Linked DNA regions of Homo sapiens. The protein of the gene in region 7 purifies or fractionates together with the protein of the main gene of each other region. This does not show direct contact. Each region holds a gene or a part of one and is shown on either strand. Other genes may lie near its edges. The genes, in order: ANXA5, GMPS, PCK2, GSTO1, PPIL3, ACSF2 and CCS.

The links.
Region 1: the proteins of CCS (region 7) and ANXA5 fractionate together in Homo sapiens (co-fractionation; one large-scale study listed by BioGRID). This does not show direct contact.
Region 2: the proteins of CCS (region 7) and GMPS fractionate together in Homo sapiens (co-fractionation; one large-scale study listed by BioGRID). This does not show direct contact.
Region 3: the proteins of CCS (region 7) and PCK2 fractionate together in Homo sapiens (co-fractionation; one large-scale study listed by BioGRID). This does not show direct contact.
Region 4: the proteins of CCS (region 7) and GSTO1 fractionate together in Homo sapiens (co-fractionation; one large-scale study listed by BioGRID). This does not show direct contact.
Region 5: the proteins of CCS (region 7) and PPIL3 fractionate together in Homo sapiens (co-fractionation; one large-scale study listed by BioGRID). This does not show direct contact.
Region 6: the proteins of CCS (region 7) and ACSF2 fractionate together in Homo sapiens (co-fractionation; one large-scale study listed by BioGRID). This does not show direct contact.

The regions. Positions count from the first base shown.
Region 1 is NC_000004.12:121,683,390-121,687,387, forward strand, and holds part of ANXA5 (annexin A5), read right to left. Parts: intron 2,984-3,998; coding exon 2,899-2,983; intron 1,383-2,898; coding exon 1,288-1,382; intron 89-1,287; coding exon 1-88. UniProt on the Homo sapiens protein: This protein is an anticoagulant protein that acts as an indirect inhibitor of the thromboplastin-specific complex, which is involved in the blood coagulation cascade.
Region 2 is NC_000003.12:155,940,043-155,944,040, reverse strand, and holds the end of GMPS (GMP synthase [glutamine-hydrolyzing]), read right to left. Parts: 3' UTR 21-3,998; downstream 1-20. UniProt on the Homo sapiens protein: Catalyzes the conversion of xanthine monophosphate (XMP) to GMP in the presence of glutamine and ATP through an adenyl-XMP intermediate.
Region 3 is NC_000014.9:24,096,894-24,100,891, forward strand, and holds part of PCK2 (phosphoenolpyruvate carboxykinase [GTP], mitochondrial isoform 1 precursor), read left to right. Parts: coding exon 1-244; intron 245-1,309; coding exon 1,310-1,494; intron 1,495-1,581; coding exon 1,582-1,785; intron 1,786-2,155; coding exon 2,156-2,343; intron 2,344-2,664; coding exon 2,665-2,827; intron 2,828-3,101; coding exon 3,102-3,320; coding exon of another isoform or gene 3,321-3,412; exon of another isoform or gene 3,413-3,860; intron 3,861-3,998. UniProt on the Homo sapiens protein: Mitochondrial phosphoenolpyruvate carboxykinase that catalyzes the conversion of oxaloacetate (OAA) to phosphoenolpyruvate (PEP), the rate-limiting step in the metabolic pathway that produces glucose from lactate and other precursors derived from the citric acid cycle.
Region 4 is NC_000010.11:104,257,521-104,261,518, reverse strand, and holds part of GSTO1 (glutathione S-transferase omega-1), read right to left. Parts: intron 1,944-3,998; coding exon 1,721-1,943; intron 1-1,720. UniProt on the Homo sapiens protein: Exhibits glutathione-dependent thiol transferase and dehydroascorbate reductase activities. Has S-(phenacyl)glutathione reductase activity. Also has glutathione S-transferase activity.
Region 5 is NC_000002.12:200,882,080-200,886,077, reverse strand, and holds part of PPIL3 (peptidyl-prolyl cis-trans isomerase-like 3), read left to right. Parts: intron 1-305; coding exon 306-380; intron 381-710; coding exon of another isoform or gene 711-816; intron 817-3,642; coding exon 3,643-3,736; intron 3,737-3,998. UniProt on the Homo sapiens protein: PPIases accelerate the folding of proteins. It catalyzes the cis-trans isomerization of proline imidic peptide bonds in oligopeptides. May be involved in pre-mRNA splicing.
Region 6 is NC_000017.11:50,471,001-50,475,618, reverse strand, and holds the end of ACSF2 (medium-chain acyl-CoA ligase ACSF2, mitochondrial isoform 2 precursor), read right to left. Parts: intron 4,592-4,618; coding exon 4,484-4,591; intron 3,251-4,483; coding exon of another isoform or gene 3,236-3,250; exon of another isoform or gene 3,221-3,235; intron 3,192-3,220; coding exon 3,040-3,191; intron 1,955-3,039; coding exon 1,813-1,954; intron 1,726-1,812; coding exon 1,615-1,725; intron 1,421-1,614; coding exon 1,352-1,420; intron 1,118-1,351; coding exon 1,067-1,117; 3' UTR 782-1,066; downstream 1-781. UniProt on the Homo sapiens protein: Acyl-CoA synthases catalyze the initial reaction in fatty acid metabolism, by forming a thioester with CoA. Has some preference toward medium-chain substrates. Plays a role in adipocyte differentiation.
Region 7 is NC_000011.10:66,599,251-66,603,248, reverse strand, and holds part of CCS (copper chaperone for superoxide dismutase), read right to left. Parts: coding exon 3,996-3,998; intron 3,791-3,995; coding exon 3,613-3,790; intron 2,761-3,612; coding exon 2,700-2,760; intron 1-2,699. UniProt on the Homo sapiens protein: Delivers copper to copper zinc superoxide dismutase (SOD1).

The DNA.
Region 1 (3,998 bases), on a different chromosome or scaffold from region 7:
CATCATAAAGCCGAGAGGGTTTCATCAGAGCCACAATTAATTTTTCAAATTTTCCAGTTAGTTCTGATTTCAGGTCATCCAGAAGATCCTAACCCACAGAAAATACAAATTTGTTAACCAGCAGAAATTGTAATAAGATTCTTCTTAAATATGAATGACAGTCCTTTGCTCTAATGAATTCTTTATGTTGCTGTCTCCAAGTAGAAGGCCCATGAGCTAAACAAAACCCTATAACCTTGAATAACATACTTTTAACCTGTGACCAAAATCTTAAACTAAAGCAAACCCACTTATACGTCAAGATATTTGTTTCTAAAAGATGTTTTTCTTAACTTGAAAAAAAAGAATACCTTTAAAAGTAGTCTAAAACTATTTTATAAAAATACTATTCTGAGAAACATATCTTCTTTGTAATTTCAAAAAATAATCATATAATGAAATTTACAAAGGACAACATTTAGTCTCTCATACCCAAACGTAATAATTTTTTCTTTTCTCTCAATATGTAATAACATTCAAACACATAATAGATTATAGTCATTGTTATGACTCCTGACCACTGGGAGATATCTGTTCCTATGGGGAAATTGTGTATGTAATTATGAAAAAATTATGTAATTGTGAAAAAAAAAACACAGTATTTCCTACCTATAAGTTTCAGCATACCACACAACTAAAAATGGTGTTTAGAATACTTTCTTTTTTGCTTTGCACTTGTTTCCTTAGTTAAGTGACATACGTTTTCAGAATAACAAGACTACATTTAAGTTTTCCATGCATGCACTAATTCATTTAAATTTAAATAATTCAAATAATTCATTTAAATAATTCAAATAAATTTTTTTGAATTATTAATCAAATAAAAGCATTTAAATCAACTAATTAAAAACCCATTAGTTAAAATCATGACAAAAGGAACCAAGACTGTGACTGTGTTAAAACAAAACATATTTTAATACAGGCTTACACCTAGAAAATGGATAGTAAGACATCCATGTGAATGCTGAGTGGGAAACACAGAGGAAAAGAAGAGAGACAGTTCTCACTACAGGATCTTTTGGCACCTCTACAGCATTAGGCAAGGAAAAACAATTATGTGAGGATAAGCTGGGTGAGCACTGTATCCTAAGAGCTGATAATTTAGAGGAGAGTGGAAAAGAAACAGAAGTAGGGAAGTCGGAATCACAAAATAAATGATGCTTACAAAAGAATATCAGTATATTCCAAACTAGTCTTATAACTGATAGCTGTTCTCCCATTCTCTCTTGGGATGAAGTGTGGTCTTACCCTGCCAAACAGAGTCTTAAAAGCTGCAGAGATTTCCTGGCGCTGAGCATTACTTCGGGATGTCAACAGAGTCAGGATGCTCTCCTCATCTGTGCCTGCAATTTATGGTTAACAATTACATTTTGGCTCCTACATGCATACTCTCCCAACGATCTTGGCAACTCGCTTCCCAGTCACCTTATTTCCTTGCCTCTCCCTATGCGAATATAAAATATATTTTATGGCCGGCGCAGTGGCTCACATCTGTAATCCTAGCTCTTTGGGAGGCCAAGATGGGAGGATTGCTTGAGGCCAGGAGTTCAAGACCTGCCTGGTCAACATAGTGAGACCCCCATCTCTTAGAAAAAAAAAAAATATGTATATATATATATATATACACACACACATATATATATACACACACACACACACAGACGCAAATACACACATATATATAAATGTTTTATTAAACAGTTTATTAAAAATTTACAATATATAAAATGTTACGTTTCCAATATATTCTACCCCCCATTCCCAACCTATTGTGAAGTAGATGGAAAAATACTTCTGCCTTTTAAAAAACTTAGGGCACCTAGTTTTTTAAAAACACACAAATAAGTATGAGCTAAGGCAAAATGTGACAAGTGCCTCAGGAGAGATCTAGGTGTTAAATGGGGCTCAAAGAAGGGTCTCCTAGCTGATAGGAGGTGGAAGGGAATCTTGGAGAATGATTCATGGAGAAGGTGACACCCACAAGTATTGAAGGATGGAAGGATTGTGAAAGGCAGTGACGAAAGGAAGGACAGCGTTTAGAATGAGAGAAAAGCTCAGCAGTGGGGAAATACAGGGCTTTCATAAACAGCAGATAAGCCAGGATGGTTGGGTCTGAGAACACATTAAACAGTAATGGGAGATGAGTCTGAAAAGGTGGGCTGGATACAATGGAAGGACTTACAGGGCCAGAAAGCACATGAACAGTAGTACAAAAGGAGCCTGAGCACAGGAGATCAGTGACACATGGAAATCCTTGAGATGAGAGGTTTTTAAATGACTAGAAAAGAGGCTGGGGAAAGAGAAGAGTCTAGCAGAATGAGAATGGGATATCTGATTGGGAACAGAGCTGCACAGCTGCCCACCTGCAGGGATGGCTGCCTTATCGACTCGGGCCTCTACCACACAGGTGAGGGTGACAAGCTCAAAAGCACAGAGGCTGAATTTAACTGCCTGTTCAGTTCTAGAGACTGAATATTAGGGATGGTTTATAGCAAGCTTGTCCAACCCATGGCCTGCAAGCCACATGTGGCCCAGGACAGCTCTGAATGCAGCCTAACACAAACTCATAAACTTTCTGAAAACATTATGAAATTTTTTTGCTTTTTTTTTTTTTTTAGCTCATCAGCTATCATTATTGTTAGTGTATTTTATGTGTGGCCCAAGATAATTCTTCCAATGTGGCCCAGAGAAGCCAAAAGACTGGACACTCTGGTTTATAGTATTATTTTGTTATCTTAACATATCTCTTCTCCTACAGATTTCAGATCAAAATATTCTAAAATTATTCTTACTGTAATTAATGACTTGTTTGGAAAAACAAATATCACATTTGCTTTAGAAAGAGGAAGCTAAATTTACCCAAGCCTTTCATAGCCTTCCGAAGAGTTTCTGCATCAGCCCGCTCATCAAATCCAGGGAAGTCAGTCACAGTGCCTCTGAGAACCTAATTCACGAAACACAGTGGTATTATTCATATCATGACTAATATGACAAAGTAAATAACACAAACAGGAAGCCGCTTGCTATATATCATATTCAGTCATTAAATAAATTTACCATTTGATAAGATTTGTGACCCCTTTTGAACTGGGAAGGGAACCATTTACAATGGGAATTGGCATGGCCGATTCAGCACAGAAGCTATCCTGATCACCTGTAATACCATCAGTGGGAAGGCTGGCTCCCTCTTCTCTGTGACGAAACCCCACCAACACCTCCTGGTTCACAGAGGGCACATCTTTGCAGGTTCCCTTCCCATTAAGTCTCACACCATTTTGATCTACAAGCATACTGAGCCCGCACTAAATCTTAATACCCTATCCTGAGTACTCAATTTTAAGCAGTGCTCTTGTTACGTGCCTTTTGATCTAAGTCCTGTTTCTGTATACATACTTAGGGACTTTACGATAACCCAGCAAAGCCTGAAATGATCGTTCACGTGCCAGAGGAATACAAATCTTTGAATTTAGAACTTTATAAAGGTGTATTGGAAGACATTCTTCATAAAGCTTCCTGTTACACATTACTTTATCATATATATACACTGCTTTTAATAACCAAAATATCTTCGTATTTCAAAAAAAATTAGTGATATCGGCTGGGCGCAGTGGCTCACGCCTGTAATCCCAACACTTTGGGAGGCTGAGGCAGGCGGATCACAAGGTCAGGAGATCCGAGACCATCCTGGCTAACACGTTGAAACCCCATCTCTACTAAAAAAATTAACCGGGTGTGGTGGCAGGCGCCTGTAGTCCCAGCTGCTTGGGAGGCTGAGGCAGGAGAATGGTGTGAACCTGGGAGGCGGAGCTTGCAGTGAGCCAAGATCGCGCCACTGCACTCCAGCCAAGGTGACAGAGCGAGACTCTGTCTCACAAAAAAAAAAAAAAAAAAGTTAGTGATATCATTAGATCCTGAGAGTCATAAGGCTTTATTAATACTGAGCCATAAATGTTTATCTT
Region 2 (3,998 bases), on a different chromosome or scaffold from region 7:
AAGTCACATAAGTCTGTGTGTATATACATATATGACTTTAATTTTATAAGTGCATGTGTATACGCACACCTTTAGCTCATTTAAATAAAAAGCTATCCAATGTTTTATGTCCATTATGTCCCCCGTTAACATTGAGCAAAATGTTAACCCCTACTATATATGCAAGGGAAATAAATTAAGTTGTTATATAGAAACCCTTGACACTATATGCAATTTCTTATGTCCCATATTCTGATAATATCTGTCCTCTTGGCTCTTACTTCTTGGAATTTCTCATAAACACGGAAGCTTCATGACAAATTGTGTAAATCATCATTTCCTCCTTTATGAAGTATATTGAAGACAAAAGGGATTAAAGTCATTTCACATTTAGCAAAGCTATTTTATGGCAACATTGTTACAACACAAAATAGACATTGCAGTTTACAATTAACAATTACACAGTGATTTCATAACAATACTACTTACTCCAATTAACAAAATATTTCTTTATAAAAAATATGTTCAAAAGGAGGTTTACATTCACTTCTTCGTTTAATATCAAGGTTGTTAACAATGGTCTTAGGAGATGCAAAGACGAAAAACTACTTACCTTAAAAATCTGTATTCTTGAAGATATATACTCCACTTGAATAAGATACTGCTCAAGGTTTAGGCTTCCTGGAGAACTCAGAGGATTTTGTAGTTGTACTTAATATACTCAATAGCCAAATTTCCTAAACTTTCATAATTTTGCTAACCAAGGGCCCTTAACAAAGTTAAAAGACACCACAGGGTTCAAAAGTGAACAAATATGTTGTTTTTGTTTTAAGACGGAGTCTCATTCTTGTCACCTAGGCTGGAGTGCAGTGGCGCAATCTCTGCTCACTGCAACCTCCATCTCCCGGGTTTAAGTGATTCTCACACCTCAGCCTTCCGAGTAGCTGGGATTACAGGCGCGCGCCACCAAGCCCAGCTAATTTTTACATTTTTAGTAGAAATGGGGTTTCACCATGTTGGCCACGCTGGTCTCAAACTCCTGACCTCAAGAGATCCGCCCGCCTCGGCCTCCCAAAGTGCTGGGATTACAGGCATGCGCCACTGTGCCTGGTCACAAATATGTTAATGAGCCAATTAAGATGGTGCTGCTCAAATGATTCTAATTCAGGAAACTTAGGTTGCAGCTAGGTAATCTCTAGTTCTCTAAAGAATAATACCCAAATGACAGGATTTATGTGTTGATGCAATAATAGCTCAGTCTGTTTCATGACCTAGCTAGAGTCAGAATTGGAGCGGTGGCTATAGCACAGGGGTGGCTTTCTCCTCTCTGAAGGAAAAGTAAAGAAGTAAGAAGAAAGAGGTTGAAAGAACAGCCTACACAGTTGTTGCCCAGATCTCAAAATTAGCAACAAGTATGTCAGCTGTCCTAATTATTACCAAACAGGTCCTGGGAGTGTCTGACACACAACATAATATAGGTGCAATCAGTTCCAGAATCTGGTTCCTGGATCTGAACTAATTTAGCTATAAGACCTTCAGCAAGACCATCTCTATGGCCTGCATCTCTCTCCTATAGGTTTGACAAAGATTCACCTATGAGTTTGATGAAGACAGGCTAGGTATGGCCCTCAATAAGAATTTATTCTGACTGGGAGATTTAAAACTGTAAATGCTTGCCGGGCGTGGTGGCTCACGCCTGTAATCCCAGCACTCTGAGAGGCCGAGGCGGGCGGATCATGAGGTCGGGAGATCGAGACCATCCTGTATAACACAGTGAAACCCTGTCTCTACTAAAAAGTACAAAAAAATTAGCCGGGCGTAGTGGCGGGCGCCTGTAGTCCCAGCTACTCGGGAGACTGAGGCAGGAGAATGGCGTGAACCCACGAAGCGGAGCTTGCAGTGAGCCGAGATTGTGCCACTGCACTTGGGGACAGAGCGAGACTCTGTCTTAAAAAAAAAACAAAACAAAACTGTAAATGCTTGAGTTCTACCTCCTCCAGATTCTAATTTTATTTAATTGGACATCTGGTTATTGTATTTTTTAACTCCTCAGGTTATGTAATAATACGCATCCAGTGTTGAGGAACACTGACAAAAAGGTTAGAGTTCAGTGAGACACTGAGGCCTCTTCAGTACATAAAAATAGGGTTGGAAGTTAGCATCTTGACACTCTTTGGGGGATTCTATATCTCTTCACTTGCCATTAAGTGAAACGTTCAGAAATTTAAGAGTCAACAATGCCACCATTACTGCTGTCAAAGTCCTTCAGTGATTAAAAAGATACCAGAAAGATACCCTGATCCCTTGATCATCTGGTGGTGTTAAACTACTTCAGTAAGAACAAAAGATGTGCTTTCCAAGGGTGGAGACATCCAACTTGTATTCAGTTCCCCATTACATTCTGGATTTGGGTCAATGAAAGAAGCATCCATTGGGGTGATAGCTAAGGCGTGTCCTCGCCACATATCAATGAGATTTCTGGAGGGGAGTAGTGTGGGAAAGTGGTTATAACATTGCGCAAGCAGATGTCAGAGAATTTCTGAAAGACAGGGCTATCTCTAGAAACTCACTGTAAGTAAGGAGACAATTAACACTTTTGAAGCCCATTTATCCCTGATGGTCAATTACACACTAAGAACTTCCTTTTTTTTTTTTTTTTGAGACTGAGTCTCGCTCTTTCACCAGGCCGGAGTGCAGTGGCACTATCTCAGCTCACTGCAAGCTCCGCCTCCTGGGTTCAGGCCATTCTCCTGCCTCAGCCTCCCGAGTAGCTGGGACTACAGGCACCCGCCACCGCGCCCAGCTAATTTGTTGTATTTTTAGTAGAGATGGGGTTTCACCGTGTTAGCCAAGATGGTCTCGATCTCCTGATCTCGTGATCCACCCACCTCGGCCTCCCAAAGTGCTGGGATTACAGGCATGAGCCACCGCGCCCGGCCAAGAACTTCCTTTTAAGATTTGCCCTGAAGGGCCCTAGAGCATTTCCTCTTCCATGCAGAGAATCAGAAAGCTTGGATTCTAGCTCTAGCTCCCAACAATTAGCTGTATGTAATTGATGATGGGTGACTTCATTAGTGTCAAAGCCAAAGCATATTCTCTGTCAGCTTTTCAAAAAAACACGCAGTAAAGAGAGATTCCTACCAGGAAAACTTTGATGGGTGTTTTTCAAGTGTCATCTCACAGCAGAAGATGCCCCAAGTGGTCAAACCTTGCCAACAGCTTCAAAAAAAGGTAACTAGGATTTAACTTTACGGTGCATTTTGATGTTTCCCTTTGTGTCATATCTGATGATAAAAGAACCTTAAAAAAAAAAAAAAAAAACACTATCCAGCTTCTCCATTCTGTCTCCTGCTTTACTTTCTCTTGTTTACAAAATACAAATTTATAGCTGGATTTGATGCTGAAAATTTAATACAGTTACCTCATGTCACAGATAAAGAACAGAAATGACTTGACCAAGTTCACATTGTTGTTTAACGGCAGGAAAAGCACTAAAGATGGATAGTCCTGCCTTCCTAATTTGAATGCTCTTATTCTCTACAGGTTAGGGTCAAGTTATTCAGTAAAACAGGCTATCAGGAGGTTAAGCCCAAACAGTGAGGAAACAAATTTTATGATGCTTGTTTGACTAAATGCATGCAGTTTACCTCAAGATTAAGGGATTTAAAAAAGGTTAGAAAACAGTGTAACCCTATCTCCTGGATATATCTACAGACTTGTATTTAGGAATTATGCCAGGCTGTTATTTCTAACAGAGCTGATGATCATAGATGTGGCCTTTAAGGCAGGACTGGGTATTTGGTTCTTAAAAATGATTCTGTGCCTGCCAATCTTAGGAATAAATAATGCTTTCAATGATCTACATTCTCTGTCTACCTAAAAAGTACAAAGAAAAAGAATATATTTAATCAAAGAGAGATGTGTCCCAGGTAGATGGTAAGCAACGGGAATAAAGTCATGATATGCCCAGAATAACCAATGATGAATGTTATTAGCCAGGTAGCCACCATTCTAGTCTT
Region 3 (3,998 bases), on a different chromosome or scaffold from region 7:
TTAACTGGCATGGGCTGAGCCCCTTGGGCTGGCCATCATGCCGTAGCATCCAGACCCTGCGAGTGCTTAGTGGAGATCTGGGCCAGCTTCCCACTGGCATTCGAGATTTTGTAGAGCACAGTGCCCGCCTGTGCCAACCAGAGGGCATCCACATCTGTGATGGAACTGAGGCTGAGAATACTGCCACACTGACCCTGCTGGAGCAGCAGGGCCTCATCCGAAAGCTCCCCAAGTACAATAACTGGTAAGCCTTGGGCTCCACAACCTGCAGGATAGGTGCACTGAGGCCACTTTGGGTTCACCAAGGCAAAATCAACTTAACTAGAACATCCCAATGGAATGAACAAGAATGAGAGCTTTGGGGTAAACAGACCCAGAAACTGGGATTTGCTTACGCCTATAATCCCAGCACTTTGAGAGGCCAAGGCGGGTGGATCACCAGGTGTCGGGAGTTTGGGACCAGCCTGACCAACATGGAGAAACCCCGTCTCTACTGAAAAAAAAAAAAAAAAATACAAAAATTAGCCCAGCATGGCAGCGCATGCCTGTAATCCCAGCTACTTGGGAGGGTGAGGCAGGAGAATCACTTAAACCCAAGAGGCGGAGGTTGCAGTGAGCCAAGATCGCGTCATTGCACTCCAGCCTGGGCAATAAGAGCGAAACTCTGTCTCAAAAAAAAAAAAGAAAGAAACTGGGATTTTTTTTTTTTTTTGAGATGGAGTCTCACTGTATCACCCAGGCTGGAGTGCAGTGGCATGATTTCAGCTCACAACAACCTCTGCCTCCGGGGAATTGTCTCAAGCAATTCTCCTGCCTCAGCCTCCGGAGTAGCTGGGATTACAAGCATGCGCCACCACACCCAGCTGATTTTTGTATTTTTAGTAGAGACAGGGTTTCACCATGTTGGCCAGGTTGGTCTCAAACTCCTAACCTCAAGTGATCCACCCACCTCAGCCTCCCAAAGTGCTGGGATTACAGGCATGAGCCACTGCGCCCAGCCTAGTTTGTAGTTTGTATTTTATTTTAATGTTAAATGAAGAAGCTGATATAAATAAGATCCTTTGCTTTTTTTTTTTTTCCTCACCAGTTCAGGGAGCTTTTGCCAGGGGCAGAGACCCCCAGAGGGCTGGGACCTTGGGGAACACCCCTTAGATGGGACAAAGCCTGGAGGAAGGGACTGAGATGTGATTGGGTGGGGAAACATAAGGCCAACAGAAGACCTGGAGTCAAAGTTGGACTTGAAAAAGTGGGTCTAGGGACAAGGGAAACCTGCTGGCCACCATCTTCCTGACAATCCCCTCTCCCCCAGCTGGCTGGCCCGCACAGACCCCAAGGATGTGGCACGAGTAGAGAGCAAGACGGTGATTGTAACTCCTTCTCAGCGGGACACGGTACCACTCCCGCCTGGTGGGGCCCGTGGGCAGCTGGGCAACTGGATGTCCCCAGCTGATTTCCAGCGAGCTGTGGATGAGAGGTTTCCAGGCTGCATGCAGGGTAACCAGGGCAGGGGCACAGTGGCAAGGGCACGGAAGATGTGAACAGGTTTGGAACCCTTCATCCAGGGGATGCCTTCCTCCACAGGCCGCACCATGTATGTGCTTCCATTCAGCATGGGTCCTGTGGGCTCCCCGCTGTCCCGCATCGGGGTGCAGCTCACTGACTCAGCCTATGTGGTGGCAAGCATGCGTATTATGACCCGACTGGGGACACCTGTGCTTCAGGCCCTGGGAGATGGTGACTTTGTCAAGTGTCTGCACTCCGTGGGCCAGCCCCTGACAGGACAAGGTAAGCACCTGCTCTGCCCCAAGGGGAACACAGAGGCCTTCTTGTACTCAGAGGAAATCCCAAATCCTACCTCTCCACAGACCCTAAGAACCTGTCCTCTCTGGCAACCTAATTCCCAAGATCCAGAGCAGCAGTCCCAGCAGAGGGATAAGGCTGTGTTTGCAGAGCACTTTGCACTAGGTTGAGAAAAATCCGTGTCCAAGAATAGGGGCATGGAAGCTGATGGTTATTATGAGGTGGGGGGCTTCAGCCACCTCTTGGTGCTGCTACTGCTCCCAAGTGTCTCTCCTGCCAATCCCTGATCCCTCTGGCCCCGACACCCCAGTTCCTGATGCTGCTGCCAGCAGCCCCATGACCCCATTGTCCCCAGGGGAGCCAGTGAGCCAGTGGCCGTGCAACCCAGAGAAAACCCTGATTGGCCACGTGCCCGACCAGCGGGAGATCATCTCCTTCGGCAGCGGCTATGGTGGCAACTCCCTGCTGGGCAAGAAGTGCTTTGCCCTACGCATCGCCTCTCGGCTGGCCCGGGATGAGGGCTGGCTGGCAGAGCACATGCTGGTGAGGGCCTGGTGAGAAGCAGGGCAGCTGCCGGGGACAGGGCAGGGGTGGGGCCTGGCCAGTCTGCCTCAGCCTCACCTCCCTCCTGCCAGGTGCCAGGCTGGTGGGCGGGGACTCTACTTGAAGGCCCAAAGCTTTGGCCTCAGGCTGCTGAATGTTGAGGTTTCCCCTGCCACTAACCCAGGCCTGATGGCAGGGCAATCACTTATATAGTTAATAAACATTGGTCCTCCCTATTAGACCCTAGCTGCCCTTCCCCATGCAGACCATGCCCTGACTTTTGGTGACCTCTTTCTTATTCCCTCTCTCCCCAATGCACAGATCCTGGGCATCACCAGCCCTGCAGGGAAGAAGCGCTATGTGGCAGCCGCCTTCCCTAGTGCCTGTGGCAAGACCAACCTGGCTATGATGCGGCCTGCACTGCCAGGCTGGAAAGTGGAGTGTGTGGGGGATGATATTGCTTGGATGAGGTTTGACAGTGAAGGTGAGGGACTCTCAGATCATACTCTTGGTTCTGGCTCTTGTCAGAGCCTCGGGGTCTCCTCTCTAGTGTTCACAATGACTTTGTCAGTGAGAAAGTTTCCTGAACACCCAACCCTGCTCCATTCCTCTGGCAGCCCAGCCACCCGAGAGACAGCCTTTCCTCATCAGATCTTGGGTCCATCTCAGGACAGGGGTGGGTGGAGCAGGACCTTCTTTGGTCTTACATCTCAAGTTTTCCTTGTTTGGTCCTTCCTTTCTTTCACTTCTCCTAACAGGTCGACTCCGGGCCATCAACCCTGAGAACGGCTTCTTTGGGGTTGCCCCTGGTACCTCTGCCACCACCAATCCCAACGCCATGGCTACAATCCAGAGTAACACTATTTTTACCAATGTGGCTGAGACCAGTGATGGTGGCGTGTACTGGGAGGGCATTGACCAGCCTCTTCCACCTGGTGTTACTGTGACCTCCTGGCTGGGCAAACCCTGGAAACCTGGTATGTGCGGTGGGGAAGGTGTGGCACAGCCTCCAGGCCTCAGCACCTTAATGGTGGAAAAGCTTTCTCCACAACCTCCAACCATCTTCTAGGACTGCCAGGAGGCACAGAAGTCATGAACGTTTGCAGTTTCCAGTCCCAGGCAAAATCTCAGTTCATGTCCCAACTCCACCAGTCACTGGTTTTGTGATCTGGCTAAGTTGCTCAACTTCCCTAAGCTTTAGTTTCCACATCAGTTGAATGAGGGTAGTTGTGATAGTACCTATCTCATGAGATTGTTGGAGGATTAAATAGTGCATAAAAAGGGTTTATCACACTGACAAATACACAGTAAATTCTCAATAATAAATACAGGCTGGATTTTTTTTTAATGAAAGGAAAAGGAAGGACTTTTGAACATTCTTACAGAAGGTATTGGGCTCCAAGCACTATCCATAAAGTTTGGCCCATTAGGAAAAGAGGAAAGCTGCCTCCTCTGCTCCAACTCTCCTCCTGCCACTTGGCTCCCACTGTCCCCTGTATAATAACCACTGTCTAAAGGTCAGTATTGTTACCGTCACCCTTCCCCTGTCCCTCCAAAGCATTCACCCCAATCCTTCCTACAAACAAAATCAGGTCAGTGCTTGAGTCTTTCCCAGAAGCTAGTTTCTGAATCCTGTCATTACCCTGGGCGCCTGG
Region 4 (3,998 bases), on a different chromosome or scaffold from region 7:
ACGCTTAGTTGTCTTTACTGTCCTAACCTTTACTGTCTTAGTTCTGTGTCTCATTTCCAAGTTCCCAGGAGAGAAGATAACTGGCCCAGGTGTGTGGGGTGGGGTACATTTCTGTTCTGATGGGCTGTGGCCAGGAGAGCAGGGTCATATGTACATAAAGCCACCTCTCCTTTAAAACCCAAGCAGGGAAGTAAAGGTGGGCATCTTCAGCATTACTTTTAAATCTCATTTTCTTTCTAGATAGTACAATGAATCTCTTGTGACTACTTTTTAAAGTAGTAGCTTTATGCATGAAAGTAAAGCTTCATGTCTAAAAGCTTTACTTTTAAAGCTCATTTTCTCTGACGTGTCCTACAAGTCCTTTCACGATCCAGTTCCTGTTTACCTCTCCAAAGTTACCCCTTTTATCTCTTCTCCTGACACTTTATATTCCAGCCATACTAAAAAAAGTTTTCCAGAACTGGCACCAGACCAAAGAGATTTTTCTTTAAGAACCACTTAGGCTTATTTTTTTTGGTTGGTATTGATGACTTCGTGTCTTGAAGCTGCATGCCTTTAACTTGTTACTACTTTGTAAAACTCTCCCACATCGTTCTTGAAAATGTCATGTTCCCTTTACATTATCTTTCACAGCAGCCGCCTCTACTATTCTTTCACCCTCATCTTACTAAGCAGATGACTCACTCTTCCTGTCCCATTGGCTTCCCTTTATAATGTCTCCTAAAACAGAATGTTTTCCCTATAACTCTCTCTTAGGGCATTTCTTTAACCATCTTTTTCTCTAAAGATAATCCTTTATATACTGACCGTACTACCAAGGTGACAATGTTATAGGCATATAACCAGACATGCTATTCTTGGTGTCTAAACACACATCTTTTAGTCATTTCTTTGTTAATACTAATTGTTTGAACTAATCCACAGTGTTGATGCTAAGTAAGGTACAAACAGTTCTTCTACAGGATTGCTATTTATTCAGTCATCTGAGTTATTGCCAACACAAAGTAGATGCTCACTGCTTGATGCTATGGCTATAAGGACAAGAATTAAGTAGTTCCCATGTGTCAGACTCTGTTCTGGGTGTTTTATATTAACTGATTTTTATCTTATGAGGTGGGAACAATTACTATATCCATTTTACCAATGATGAACGGAGAGGCAAAGTAATAAGTAACTTGCTCAGAGTCACAAGAAAGTAGCAGAGCCAGTCATAAAACTAGGCAGTGAACTAACAGTGATCAAAACACAGCCCTCACCCTCAAGGAGCTCACAGCCCCAGTGCAGTACACAGGCAAGAAGGCAGGCAAAAGTTCACACGGATGGGAACTCAGAAGCTAGAGCACTAACCAGCCTGCCAAGCTCCTGAAAAGGCAGCAGTGTCGGAGCAGACATGTGAAAAATGACGTGGAGATAACCAGGCACAGTGAGAAGTGGGAAGAATCTGACAGCAAGAATTGAAAGAGAAAGGGGCGAATTTGGGAATTCTGAGAAAAGTTTAGTATGGCTGGCATATATAAAGTGTCAGGAGACGAGTGAAAAGGGATAATTTTGGAGGTAAACAGGAACTGGATCGTGAAAGGACTTGCAGGACACTCAGAGCTGACAAGCATATTCCTGTTTTGTTTTTCTCTCCCAAATCACTGAACCATAAATGGCAGCACTGATTTCGCTTTAAAAAACAGGTTTTTCAAATAGGAGCTGAAATTTCTTATGCACAAACCTTAGAAAACAACTCTAAGATCATCTTCTGGCAAGCTTTCTCATAGGGGTCATCCGGCAACAGCTTCTTCCCTGGGTATGCTTCATCCAGGTACTCACAGGTGATGGCAGACTCGTAGATCAGCTGACCCTGACTGTTTTCCAGAACTGGCACCAGACCAAAGGGATTTTTCTTAAAGAACCACTCAGGCTTATTTTTCAGGTTGATATTGATGACTTCATGCCTGAAAGACACATAGGAGACTATGAAGAGAAGGAAACAACTTTTGTGCTTTTGGATAAATTCTCACTGGCTTTGCCATCCACTTAGCTGATCAGACCCCAAATTTAGGAGTCTGCCTAGATTCCTTCCATTCTAGTTTTTGATTTTATGAATCTGACTACTTTTGATACACCTTTTAAGAACAATCATGCAGTATTTGTCTTTCTGTGTCTGGCTTATTTTACTTAGCATAATGTCCGCAATGTCCATCCATGTTGTCACATATTGCAGAATTTCCTTCCTTTTTAGGTGGAATAGCATTAACACATTTTCTTTATCCATTCATCTGCTGATGGACATTGACATTATGCTGTTGTGAACAGTGCTGCAGTCTACGTGAGAGTGCTAATATCTCTTTGAGAACTTGATTTCATTTAATTTGGATATATACCCAGTAGTGAGATTGCTGAATCACATGGTAGTTCTAGTTTTAATTTTTTGAAGAACATCTATACTGTTTTCCATAGCAGCTGTACCATTTTACATTCCCGCCAACAGTGTGCAAAGGTTCTGATTTCTACACATCCTTGCTAACACTTGTCTTTTTTCATTATAGTCATCTTGACAAGTGTGAGGTTATTATGTGATTTTGATTTGCATTTTCCTGATGATTAGTGATAAGAACTTTTTCATATATGTGTTGCCCATTTTTATATCCTCTTTGAAGAAATGTCTATTTTTTTAATTTTTAATTTTTTTTGACACTCTGTCTCCCAGACTGGAGTACAGTGGCTTGATCGCAGCTCACTGCAGCCTCGACCTCCTGGGCTAAAGCGATCCTCCTACCTCCCGAGTAGTTGGGACCACAGGCGTGCACCATCACACCCAGCTAATTTCTTTGTAGAGACAGGATTCTGCCATGTTGCCAAGGCTGGTCTTGAACTCCTGGGCTCAAGTGAACTGTCTGCCTCGGGGTTATAGGCGTGAGCTACCATGCCCAGCCTGAGAAGTGTCTATGTAAGATCTTAGCCCATGTTAAAATCAGGTTTTTTTGTTGTTGAGTTGTAGAGATTCCTTATGTATTTTGGAGATTAACCCCTTACCAGGTATGTGGTTTGCAAGTACTTTCTCCTATTCCATAGGTTGCCTTTTTGCTCTGTTAATCGTTTCCTTTGCTGTGTGGAAGCTTGTTTGCTGTAGTCTCATGTGTTTATTTTTGGTCTTGTTGCCTGGTCTTTGGTGTCATGTCCAGGAAATCATTGCCAAGGCCAGTGTCATGAAGCTTTTCCCCTATGTTTTCTTTTACACGTTGGCGGTTTTTATATTCCTTGAATTTGCCAAATGTGTTTCCACCTTAGAGTCTTTGCACTTGATGGTCCTCTGCCTCCTCTGCCTGCCTTTTCCCAGGTCTTCCCAGGTCAAACACACATCCCCAGGCCCTCCCTGACCATAGCTCTGAAGTTGCTGAGCAGCTTCTATTACATGATTATCATGTTTTACTTTCTTCATTGAACTGATAATATGTATCTGAAATTACTTTGCTCACTTATTTACAAGTTTGTTATCTTCCTAGAATGTAAGCTTCACGAAAGGTGGGATCTTGTGTATCTGTTCATAGTAATAAACAAACATGTAAATGAGCAAAATGCTATATAGATATAAATGCTCTGAAGAAAATAAAAAGTTTCAAATAAGGACTCAGTAAATATTTTTGTTTTGAAATATTTCATATAAATGAATGAATAAATCTGTGGAAATGCTTCAAAATTGTCAATAAGATACTCCATTTATGGCTAAGAGGTATCTTAGTTATAAATCATATGAGGCAACTAATTGAATTGTGTCCACTATCCACTATATGAGAACCAACATAAAATTCAATTTATTTTGCTAATTTGAGTAAAAAGTTTCTTGGTTTTTATGAAGATATTAAGGAATCCTTAAAATCCACCCACAAGGCCAGGCTTGGTAGCTTACATCTGTAATCCCAGAACCTTGGGAGACTGCAGTGGGCGGATTGCTTAAACCCAGGAGTTCAAGACCAGCCTGGGCAACATGATGAAACCCTATCTCTACA
Region 5 (3,998 bases), on a different chromosome or scaffold from region 7:
TGATAAAAAATTCAAAGTTAAAATAATTCTTTCCATCAAAATATTTACTTCCAAATTTTTGTCATGGATACTACTTAACCCTAACATTTATATTCTGGAGTTTTTTCTCTACTGTTGGGATCAATTTTGAGAAAAAAGTACAACTTAACCTCTAAGAGCTGCTTTGTGGATGGGTCATCTCTGAAGCAGTATTTCTGTCTGTTTTTATTCAGATTATCATCTTGAATATCCACACAGGGAAATAAACAATGCATAAAGTCACCTAAATAAATTTCATTTGTTCTCACATTTTCTCTCCTTTTTAGTCTGTGACACTGCATACAGATGTAGGTGATATTAAAATTGAAGTCTTCTGTGAGAGGACACCCAAAACATGTGAGGTAAGTACTATTATTTACATATTCAACATCAGTTAATACAACAAGATAAGCACTTTGGAATTGAATAATCTAACCTAAATAACAACAACAAAACTTTCTGTAAAACCATTGTTAGGGAAAACTAGCCATCCTAACTTCTGGCCTGATTTCCACTTATTTGTCCAATGTCAAAGGTGGATCAAAGAGAACGTAGATAATTTTTCGGTAACGATAGAGTAGCCAGTATCTTTTTCTTTTGAACTAATTTTCTTCAGGAAACGTAATCATTAGGACATTATATTACTTTTTTCTTTCTTTTTTTTTATTTATTTATTATTATTTTTTTTTGAGATGGAGTCTCGCTGTGTCCCCCAGGCTGGAGTACAATGGCGCGATCTCGGCTCACTGCAACCTCCGCCTCCTGGGTTCAAGCAAGTCTTCTGCCTCAGCCTCCCGAGTAAGTGGGATTACAGGCGTGCGCCACCATGCCTGGCTAATTTTTGTATTTTTAGTAGAGACAGGGTTTCACCATGTTGGTCAGGCTGGTCTCAAACTTCTAACCTCAGGTGATCCATGCACCTCAGCCTCCCAAAGTGCTGGGATTACAAGCATGAGCCACTGCACCTGGCCTTTTTTTTTTTTTTTTTTTTCTCAAGACGGAGTCTTGCTCTGTCACCCAGGCTGGAGTGCAGTGGCATGATCTTGGCTCACTGCAACCTTCGCCTCTGGGGTTCAAACGATTCTCCTGCCTCAGCCTCCCAAGTACCTGGGATTACAGGCACCCACCACCATGCCCAGCTAATTTTTATATTTTTTTAGTAGAGACGGGGTTTCACCATGTTGACCAGGCTGGTCTCAAACTTCTGACCTCAGGTAACCCGCCTGCCTCAGCCTCCCAAAGTGTTGGGATTATAGGCATGAGCCTCCATGCCCGGCAGGATATTATATTAAAGAATTGTTGTATACTTTTTTTTTTTTTGAGACAGGGTCTTGCTCTGTCGCTCAGACTGGAGTGCAGTGGTGCAATCACGGCTCATTGCAGCCTCAACCTCCTGGGCTCAAGCAATCCTCCCACCTTGGCCTCCCAAGTAGATAGGACTACAGGCGTGTGCCACCATGCCAGGCTAATTTTTTTTAAATTTTTATGGAGACGAGATCTCACTATGTTGCCCAACTTGGTCTCGAACTCCTGGTCTCCAGCCATCGTCCCATCTCAGCTTCCTGAAGTATTGGAATTATAGGCGTGAGCCACCATGCCTGGCCTGTTCTATACATTATTTCGCCTGTTTATTTTTATTTATTTATTTATTTATTTTGAGACAGAGTTTTGCTCTTGTTGCCCAGGCTGGAGTGCAGTGGCCCAATCTTGGGTCACTGCAACCTCCGCCACCCAGGTCCAAGGGATTCTCCTGCCTCAGCCTCCCAAGTAGCTGGGACTATAGGCGCCAGCCACCATGCCCAGCTAATTTTGTATTTTTAGTAGAGATGGGGTTTCACCATGTTGATCAGGCTGGTCTCAAACTCCTGACCTCAGGTGATCCACCCGTCTTGGCTGCCCAAAGTGCTGCCCAAAGCCACTGCACCCGGCCTGTGTCACCTGTTTAAATGACAAGGATGGAAGGAAGAAGAGTCACCTGTATATATTCATTTATTCAGCAATTATTTATGGCTGGGCATGGTGGCTCACATCTATAATTCCAGCACTTTGGGAGGCTAAGGTGAGCTCAGAAGTTCTAGGCTTACCTAGGCAATATAGTGAGACCCCCATCTCTACAAAACAATACAAAAATTAGCCAGATGTTGTGGTGTGACCCTGTTGTCCCAGCTACAAGGGAGGCCAAGGTGGGAGAATTGCTTGAGCCTAGGAGGTCAAGACTGTAGTGAGCTCTGATCACACTGCTGCACTCCAGCCTAGGTGACAGAGCAAGACCCTGTCTCAAAACGAAACAAGAAACCCATTATTCGTGAAAGGCTATCTTGCCCCAGAGTCTGGAGATACAGTGATGAGCAACAGACATTCCTTACCCTCATGGAGCCAATATTTTAGTTGTAAAAATAAGCAGGGCAGGAAAATTAAGTAATTATATTTTTAAGAAATTATTTTCATTTATTTATTTTTTTTTTAAAGATAGAGATGAGGTCTTACTATGTTGCCCAGGCTGGTCTTGAACTCCTGGACTCAAGTGATCTTCCTGCCTCCCAAAGTGCTGAGATTACAGGTGTGAGCTGCTGTGCCTGGCCTAAAATTAAGTAATTCTAAAAGATGATAATGCCTTGAAAAAAATTAAGTGTTGAGATAGAGAATAATGGGAAAGGAAGAAGGTGAGGGCAGGTGTAGCCAATAAACTAATACTTAAATTAAATGCAAAGGTATGAGGGCATCTCCATGGAAAGAGGTATAGAAAGAATATTCCAGGTATTCAGATTCAGAAAAGGTTGTGAAATAAAATTTTAAAAAATTCCAAGACCAGGCACGGTGGCTCACACCTGTAATTCCAGCACTTCGGGTGGCTGAGGCAGGAGAATCATTTGAGCTCAGGAGTTCAAGACCAGCCTGGGCAACATAGGGAGACACTGTCTCTACAAAAAAAAAAAAAAAAAAAAAAGAACATTCCAGATATAGAAATCTCAGGTACAGAGTACCCCAGGTAAGAAAAGCTGCCCCTTTTGGATTAATTGTCAGAATGCTGATGGAGTTTAGGTAGTAAGCAACAAGAAAGCAGTTCTTAGTATATGTGATGAGGAGATGAGCCAGGTACTGCAGGGCTTGTTAGGCCCTGCTGAAGATTTTCTTTTTGTTTTTGGTTGTTTTTTTTTTTTTTTGAGACGGAGTCTCTGTCGCCCGGGCTGGAGTGCAGTGGTGCGATCTCGGCTCACTGCAACCTCCGCCTCCCAAGTTCACGCCATTCTCCTCCCTCAGCCTCCAGAGTAGTTGGAGGCGCCTGCCACCACACCCAGCTAATTTTTTGTATTTTTAGTAGAGATGGGGTTTCACCATAGCCAGGATGGTCTCGATCTTCTGACCTCGTGATCCACCCACCTCGGCCTCCCAAAGTGCTGGGATTACCGGCGTTAGCCACCATGCCCGGCGAAAGATTTTGTATTTTATTTCAAGAGGAGAAGGAAGCTATTGAAGTGTTGTAGGCAGGGAAATGACATCCAAAGTAATGACAACAGTCATAGTTTAAATATGCTGCTATCACGTTTTCAGTAAATATGATTGGTTTTTTGTCTTAACTGGGTTTCTGCTGCATCATTTCTCAATCATTTTTACTCCCTTCAGAATTTCTTGGCTCTTTGTGCCAGTAATTACTACAATGGCTGTATATTTCATAGGAATATCAAGGGTTTCATGGTTCAAACAGGAGATCCAACAGGTAAGTTATTCCATTAACCAAGATCTAAGGAACTGAATGTATAGTATGAAGAAGTGGGTAAAAGAAGAGGAATTAAATACGTGGAGTTTTTGTTTTGTTTTGTTTTGTTTAATAAGTTCTGTTCTACAAGTACAGAACATGCAGGTTTGTTACATAGGTATATGTGTGCCATGGTGGTTTGCTGCACCTATCAGCCTGTCCTCTAGGTTTTAAGCCCAGCATGCATTAGCTATTCGTCCTAATGCTCTCCCTCCCCTTGCCC
Region 6 (4,618 bases), on a different chromosome or scaffold from region 7:
ACATTCCTACAGTCCCAGCTACTCAGGAGGCTGAGGTGGGAGGACTGCTTGAGCCCAGGAGTTCGAGGCTGCAGTGAGCTATGATCATGTCGCTACAGTGAGTCACTGCACTCCAGCACGGGTGACGGAATGAGATCCTGTCTCTAGAAAATGGGGGAGGTGGGAGTGAACTGGAGAGTATGTGAATTACATCTCAATCAAGCTGTTATACATATATAAAAAGAATACTTCTTGCTAGACTAATCTGGCAACAATGTGAAAAAGAATTAAATTAGAGTAGCTTAAAAATAAAAAATTGGGGCCAGGCGCAGTGGTTCATGCCTGTAATCCCAGCACTTTGGTAGGCTGAGGCAGGCGGATTGCTTGAGGTCAGGAGTTTGAGGACCAGCCTGGCCAACATGGTAAAACCTCGCCTCTACTAAAAATACAAAAGTTAGTTGGGTGTGGTGGTGGGTATCTGCAATCCCAGTTACTTGGGAGGGTGAGGAAGGAGAATCACTTGAATTAGGGAGGCAGAGGTTGCAGTGAGCTGAGATCGCATGACTACACTCCAGCCTGGGTGACAGGGCAAGACTCTGTCTCAAAAAACAAGAACAACAACAAAAATGGGTTGGTATCTCAAAGGGATACCAAGGGTGAGGGTTAAATTAAGTAGATAATCCACATCAAGGTGCTCTGCACTCTCAATGACAAGGAATAGGACGTCTGAAAGTGCTAGTTCCCCTCAGTGTCTTCCCTTCTCCATCCTGTAGTAGCTGCCAAGAGAGCCCACCAGCAAGAAGCCAAAGAAAACAGAAGCTCTTTATGCCAAATCACAAGGACAGACAGGGGAATGTGGGGGATGGACAGGAGGGAGGGCCTGGGCAGGCTGCCTGCCTTTTGGCACCTTGTGCCCAGGCGAGTTCCCGGACCCATCCAGGAGCTCTTAGTTCGTTCAGTCAATTCCTTGACATTTGATGTGCCTGGCTCAGAACTGGGTGCTGGGGACATCTAGGTGCATAAAGCCAGGTTGCATTCTGACAGGAGAGAGTCAAGCCAACCGGCCAGGACAGGCCTGCTGCTTTATTCACAGATTTAGATGTCGTTCCATCTGCTCTCGAAGTTTGAATTTCTGGATCTAGAGGAAAGAAAATGGAGTTAGGGTTACCAGCTGTCTTGGTTCACCCAAGAATAAGGGGTTTCTCAGGCTCTTAGTGCCAAAACAGGGAAAGTCCCCAGGCAAACCAGGATTAGGTGACCCGGTCACCCTACTGCCAGTCTCTCCACACCCATTGCTGAAGGAAACAGAGGTGGGGCCCTATGGGGCCCCAGAGCCCAGGCTGCCCTCCCCAGCCTCCTCCACCTTACACACCTTTCCTGAAATGGTGAGGGGGTAGTTTGTGACAAACACGATGTACTTCGGAATCTTGAAGTGAGAGATCTGCAGACCAGAGGGAGGGAGGTAAGGCGTGAGGCTGCGCAAGCTCACAGGGGTATGGGTAGGGGACCAGGGGCTGGCCTGGCCAGGAGTCAGCTTCGTCAAGGGCAGAGCAATCCCCACCCTGGGCTGGTTGGCAGAGGAGTGGGTGAGCAAAGAACAGAGCAGCATCAGCTAGGTTGAGCGGAGGCTCCCACCTTCCCTTTGCAGAAAGCTTTTATCTCCTCCACCGTGGTCTCCTCCCCGTCCTTCAGCCGAATGCAGGCACAAATCTCTTCCCCCATCCGATCGTCCTTCACTCCCACCACCTTCCAGGGCCAAAGAAAAATATCAGACATCACCGTGTTCATGTGTGTTTCTTGTTTCTGGGGGCTCACCTGAGCCAAGTGCCTCACCTGCACTTCCTGCACCTTCGGGTGTGTGTGAAAGAAGTCCTCGAGCTCTGCGGGGTAGATGTTCTCACCACCCCGGATGATCATATCCTTAGAGCGGCCCACGATCTTGCAGAAGCCCTGCTCATTCATTGTGGCGACATCTCTGTAAGGAAAGCCCAGGGGCAACCTGTCATCTCTGCCTTGTTCACTCACTTGCTTGCTCAGTCGTGAAACATTTATTGACCAGCTACTATGTGTCTTCCACTGCTCTAGACTCTGGGAGACATAGCAGGAACAAGACACAGTCTCTGGAATTAATAGTCCAGTAAGGGGAGGGGAGGTAGACAAAAACAAAACAATACCTATAACATATTCTGTCTCTCTCAACACATCTATACATAGCTTTTCACGACTGGCTTCTTTCCAGGTCTCAGCTCAAATGTCTCCAGACATCTTCTCTGTCCACTCAATCTAAGGGAAGCTCCCCTCCCCACCACAGCCACTTTCTCTCCTATAACCCTATTTCATTTTCTTAGTGTTTTTTGTTTGTTCATTTGCTTGTTTGTTTTTGAGATGGAGTCCTGCTCTGTCGCCCAGTCTTGAGTGCAGTGGCGCGATCTCGGTTCACTGCAACCTCCATCTCCTGGGTTACAGCGATTCTCCTGCCTCAGCCTCCGAGTAGCTGGGACTACAGGCACGTGCCGCCACCACGTCCGGCTAATTTTTGTATTTTTAGTAGAGGTGGGGTTTCACTGTGTTGGCCAGGCTGGTCTCAAACTTCTGACTTCAGGTGATCCACCCGCCTCGGCCTCCCAAACTGCTGAGATTACAGGTGTGAGTCACCGCGCCTGGCCTATTTTCTTGGTGTTATTTATCGATGTTGGGCATCATCTGTCTTCCTCCAAAAAGCAGGATCCTTCTCATCTTACTTTCCTCTGGACCTCTAGCGGCGAGAACGGTGCTAGCACATAAGGAATTCTAGTAAGAATTTGCTGAGCTAACAAATGAGTGACTGAATCTGGACTCAGATTTTGCAGCTGCTGGTGTAGGGTGATGACCCAGTTGCTTTCTTCTGTGCTATGTATGATCATCCCCACCGTATACATTTTGGAAATTAAGACTCCAGCATGTGAGGGGTCATCTTGATACCCACATCCTCACGGTGCCAGGTTAATGTTCCCGGCTCAGCCTCAAGACCTCCAGCCTCCCCTCAGCGGCCAGAGCCTCCACCCCGCCCTGCCTTCTCACCCTGTCCAATACCACTTGTCCTGATCCACTGCTTCCTCTGTCTTCTGAGGCTCACCCCAGTAGCCCAGCATGACGCAGTACCCTCGGATGCACAGCTCCCCGGGCGTGTTCAGCTTTGCCAGCGTCCCTGCCTCCATGTTCATGATCCGGGCCTGGGACAGGATGGCCTCAGGTTGGGGCTTCCTATCCTCTTGCTTCAGGATAGGTGGTCCTTGGAAATGGAGAGAGCTTTGCCTGCCCCCAACCCCCCAACCCAACTGCCTGGAATGAGGCCCCCTGGCTCTGCTTATCCCCATCCAGAGAAGGGAGACAAAGGCTAGAGTCGACCCAAAGCCAGTGAGAGACCTGAGCTGGGCATGAAAGAAGAGCTGAGTCCCAGGCTGGGAGGGCTGAGGAAACAGAGTGGGCAGGCAGCTGCTGCAAAGAAAGAGGTTTGTGGACTGCAGAGCCAGCTGAAGAATTATAAACCGTGCAGAGGAGAAGGGAGTCTCCTCTTACTTCCCATTAAGCAGCAAATAAGCCAAACAGGGTGGCATGGCAACACCATGTGAACAGGAGAGACAGAGTCTGAAAGCCTGGTAGAGAAAAGAGCCACGGCCACCGTGCCAAGGAAAGCTGAGCCTCTGTGTGCCTCAGTGTCTGTGTCCGTGAAATGGGGTGAGTGATGCCTGCCCCTGTTTCCCTTCCAGGTGGGCATCTTAGTGACAGTGGCAGTGCAGCTGTAGCACACACGGGAGGAGGCTCACATCCCTACTCAATCCCTGGGTACATGGTTGCTCTGGCGGGAGGGCAGGGCAGATTCACGCCAGGACAGCGGTCAGCCCCAGGGGAAGCAGCTGCTTGTGCACGGGGGCAGCGATCCCCCAGGGGCGGGAGCAGAAGGGTGCAGGGGAAATCAGGAGCCAGCTGGCACAGCCCCAGTGTTGGAGCAGGAAAGGAGGCATGGCTGGGCATTTGAGATTCAGGTGCACTCTGGGGCAACCTTTGAGGGGCAAAGGGACCGCCCCAAAGGGATAGGCTGCTTGGGAAATGAAGTGTTTACGCCAAGCAAGAAGAAGAACTCTGCTAAAGCGAGAGGCGAGCACCACTGGAGGAAAAGAAGCTGTGTAGGAAAACTCTCTGTGCTCTGGCTCCTCTTTGAGGCTACCCTGGCTGCCCTGAAACAGACAGTGGGCTTGGCAAAAACACACCTCAGACAGGAAGGGAGGCCGCGGAGAAGTTCAGCTGGCAGCCGCTCACAGCCACTGTTCCAGCTCTTCCCCTTTCATGCTTAGCCCACAGAGAACACTCCGGGCCAGGCCTAGCACACCCCTGCTGCTGGGGGGCTCTAGGCATCCTGAGTGAGCCATTTGACTCTCTCACTGAAAGCAACCGATGTCCCAGCTGGGTGCACCCCAGCTGGGTGACGGGAGGTGGGACTTTGGAGTCTTGGTCAGGGGCTCACCTCCGTGTGAGGCATAATTCTGCCCACGCTTTCTGCCTTCTGCTCCACAGTGTCCTCAGGGAAGTGCGCGAATGTCACGGGACTGTTCTCTGTGGTTCCATAAGCAACCTAGAGGGTCCAGAAAGGGTGTTTGAA
Region 7 (3,998 bases):
GGAGGCATGACCCAGCAGGAGTTCAGGGAAAGGCAGCCTTTCCAGGCTGTTTCCTCAGCACACAGGCAGGGGCAATAGGCAGGGGGAGTGGGGTATTGAATGTCCACATCAAGAAGCTAGGCCCAGCTTGTACTCTCAGGCACTGGGAGCCAAGACAAGTTTCAGGCAGGGGCATGGCCTGGTTACTCCAGGCTTCAGAACAATCCTTCTAGTGCAGTCTATGAAAAGTAAAGACTGGAGCAGGGTGAGGAGAGAACAGAAGGGAGCTTAGAGATCAGTTAGGAGATGTGCAAGGGACAACCAGGCTTGAATGCAAATTCCCACATGGAATTCTTTTCCACCTGGGAAAAGCAGATGCTAAAACCCAACAGCAACTTGCCAGTCACCGTGGCCTTGGCTGGTCAGCTCCTGCTCAGTTCTTCCTTGTCTAAGTTAAGGGATTGGGTGAGGTACAGCTGCTGATGCCAGCCCCTTCTGATTCCCTGCCCCACCTGGGGCCCAGGAAGAAAACACAGGTCACAAGACAGGCTCCTGCCCTTCAGAAACACTCCCTGCCATTCCATGCCTTGAGGGCTTTGCCCGGGCAGTTTCTTTTGCTGGGCTTGCCAATCCCACTCTTACCCTCTTCAATGCCTACTTCCTGCCCATCATCTTTCAAGGCTGCATGAGGCGAATGGCCTCTATGATGTGCCTCCCTTGAGTGTGGGCTGGACCTAGTGTCACTTCTAAGATTAGGTTACAAAAAGAATGTGGCTTGAGTCTTGGACGCCCTCTCTCAATCTCAATCTCTCTCTCTCTCGCTCATTCACTCTGAGAGAAGCCAACTGCCGTGTTGTTAGCTGCCCTAGGGAGAGACCCATGTGGCAAAGAACTGATGTCTCTGGCCAACAGCCAAGGAGGACCTGGGGCCTGCCAACAGCAACATGAGCAAACCTGGAAGCAGATTCTCCCCACGTGGGGCCCTGAGATGACTGCAGCCCCGAGAGAGACCCTGAGCTGCAGGCACCCAGCTAAGTCACACACAAATTCCTGCCCCAGAGACAGTATATGTTTGTTGTTTTAAACTCCTAACTTTGGAGTCATTTGATTTGCAGCAGCAGATTACTAATCACTGAGCATAAGCATGGCACTGTGCAATGGACTCTATAAGAAATGCCTCTCCAATTTCCCAGAACAGGGAGTAAAAACTTTTGATCATTAGAAATGTGACAGGGTGGTTGGGCACAGTGGCTCATGCCTGTAATCCCAGCACTTTGGGAGGCCAAGGCAGGCGGATCACTTGAGGTTGGGACTTCAAGACCAGCCTGGCCAACATGGCAAAACCTCGTTTCTACTAAAAATAAAAAAAAGAAAAAGAAAAAAAAAAAATGTGGCAGAGGCCAGGCATGCTGGCTCATGCTCATAATCCTAACACTGGGAGGCCGAGGAGGGAGGTCTGCTCAAGCCCAGCAGTTTGAGACCAGCCTGAGGAACATAGTGACACCCTATTTCTACCACCAAAAAAACAAAAAAAAAAAATTAGCTGGGCATAATGGTACATGCTTGTGGTCCCAGCTATCAGGTGAGGTGGGAGGATTGCTTGAGCCCATGAGTTCAAGGCTGTAGTGAGCCATGATCACAGCACTGCACTCCAGCATGGGCAACAGAGTGAGATCCTATCTCGGAAAGGAGAGGGGAGGGGAGGGGAGGGGAGAAAGGAAAAGGAAAAGAAACAGAAGAAAAGAAAAGCATGATAGGTAACAGAGCTGTGAAAAGTCCAAAAAATCAGTAACATGCATTAAGCAACACATACCATGGTTTCAATTGTTTTGTGGCACAAGGTTGCAAACCCATCAAGATAGAAAATAGCCCAGTCAGAGCCGGGCACAGTGGCTCACGCCTGTAATCCCAGCACTTTGGGAGGCTGAGGTGGGTGGATCACTTGAGGTCAGGAGTTCAAGACTGCCTGGCCAACCTGGTGAAACCCCATCTCTACTAAAAATACAAAAATTACCCGGGTGTGGTGGTGTGCACCTGTAGTCCCAGCTATTAGGGAGGCTGAGGCAGGAGAATCGTTTGAACTTGGGAGGCGGAGGTTGCAATGAGCTGGGACTGCGCCATTGCACTCTAGCCTGGGCAATAAGAACAAAACTCCATCTCAGAAAATAAAATAAAAAAACCAAATGATTGAGTAACTAAAAATACAACTAGTACTCAGATAAGGCAAAAATCATTAAGGCAACACACAATTCCCTGAAGATTGGGAAATGATTCTCTGCTGAAAAATGAAACTCCAGGACCGGGGTGTTAGGGAACACCAGGGACAGCCTTTTCAGTTTAGGTAAAACCCTCAACTTCCATATTTCACTTCCTCCCACTGCCCCTGCCCCTCAGGCAGATGAACTATTCACTGTGGGCTCCAGGACCTCTTGCAGGCTCCTGCAAGGATGATCTCACTGCCTGGAAACCATGGAATTCAGTAATCTCCCCCAGAGACTGTGTGCTCCTTGGGTCAGGCACTGGGGCTGTAATCTATTGTATCCCCTGGGCCTTGATCACAGAAAGTGTCAACAAATGTTTCCAAACTCAGCAAAATAAAATGAGAGGAAAAGACTCCACCAAAAAGGAATCACACTGTTATGATCCCAAGAGCTGCCTGCCCTGCCTCTGAGACTTTGGGTCCTCTCTCAGCCCAAGCCCAAACCCAGACAGACACTTACCCGGTCAGAGTCCTGGGGGCCCCCATGAGATGCTCCATCAGGGTTAAAGTGATTCCCACAGCTAAGAAAGAAAGGAAACAGGTGGGCAGGAAAGCAGCTCACAGGCCAGGTGCTCTACCCTCTCATCTATTTATATTTGCTTCATTCATTCATTCATTCATTCATTCAACAAACAGGCCTACTCTGTGCTGGGCTTTGGGTAGAGGGCACCGAGAAGAATCAGACATGGGTCCTGTCCTGAATAAGCTTCTGGCTCAGGGGACTCACAGATGAGTAAACAACTAGTTATATCACAGCATGACAAACACCATGGCATGGGGACCCTTCCTTTGCTGTGTCCAGAAGTCCCCTTCCATCTCAGAGGCAGTAAGGTGGTTATAAGCAGGACCTTCAAGATCAGATTTTATTTTTTTTCTTGAGACAGAGTTTTGCCCTGTCACCCCTGAGCTGGAGTGCCGTGGTGCAATCTCAGCTCACCACAACCTCCACCTCCTGAGTTCAAGTGATTCTCCTGCCTCAGGAGATTACGGGCCTCCCTAGTAGCTGGGATTATGGGCACATGCCACTGCACCTGGCTAATTTTTTTTTGTATTGTTAGTAGAGATGGGGTTTCACCATGTTGGCCAGGCTGGTCTTGAACTCCTGACCTCAGGTGATCCGCCCACCTCAGCCTCCCAAAGTGCTAGATTACAGGTGTGAGCTACTGTGCCCAGCCAAGGTCAGATCTTGACTCAAACCCCAACTCTACCTTTTACCTGCTGTGGACCTTTGGCAAGTCATTTAACCTCTGTGAGCCTCAGTTTCCTCATCTGGAGGTTGTGCCTGTGTGTATGTGCCTCACAGAGTATTGGTGAGGGCCCAGTGTGAAAATGTGTAGCTGAGAATGCTACTGGGGAGACTTCAGACAACTCACCTGTTGCAGTTGTTTGTAAGGTCCCCGTACTGATGGACGTGGAGTCCATGCAGCCCAGGCTCCAGGCCGTCAATAGTTCCCTCGATGAGGCAGCGCTCAGGGGTCAGCTGTAGGAAGCGCACCACCCCCTGCACGGTGCCAGGCCCCCCCAGGATGGCCACTGCTGCCCCCAGATTCTCTGCAAGGTATTAGACACTTGGGCTGGCTTGCCACCTCACCCAGCACACCTCTTCAGCAGCTCGGGAAGGGCAGGGAGTCTCACATAATTTTCACACCTTCCTCAAAGCCACTCCAACCCAGAGCCTGAGAATCCTATGATTAGATTTGTACCAGCTCTGAGCCACCTCCCTCCGAGAGGGGCCAAGGCCACAGTGGTCACTCACGCA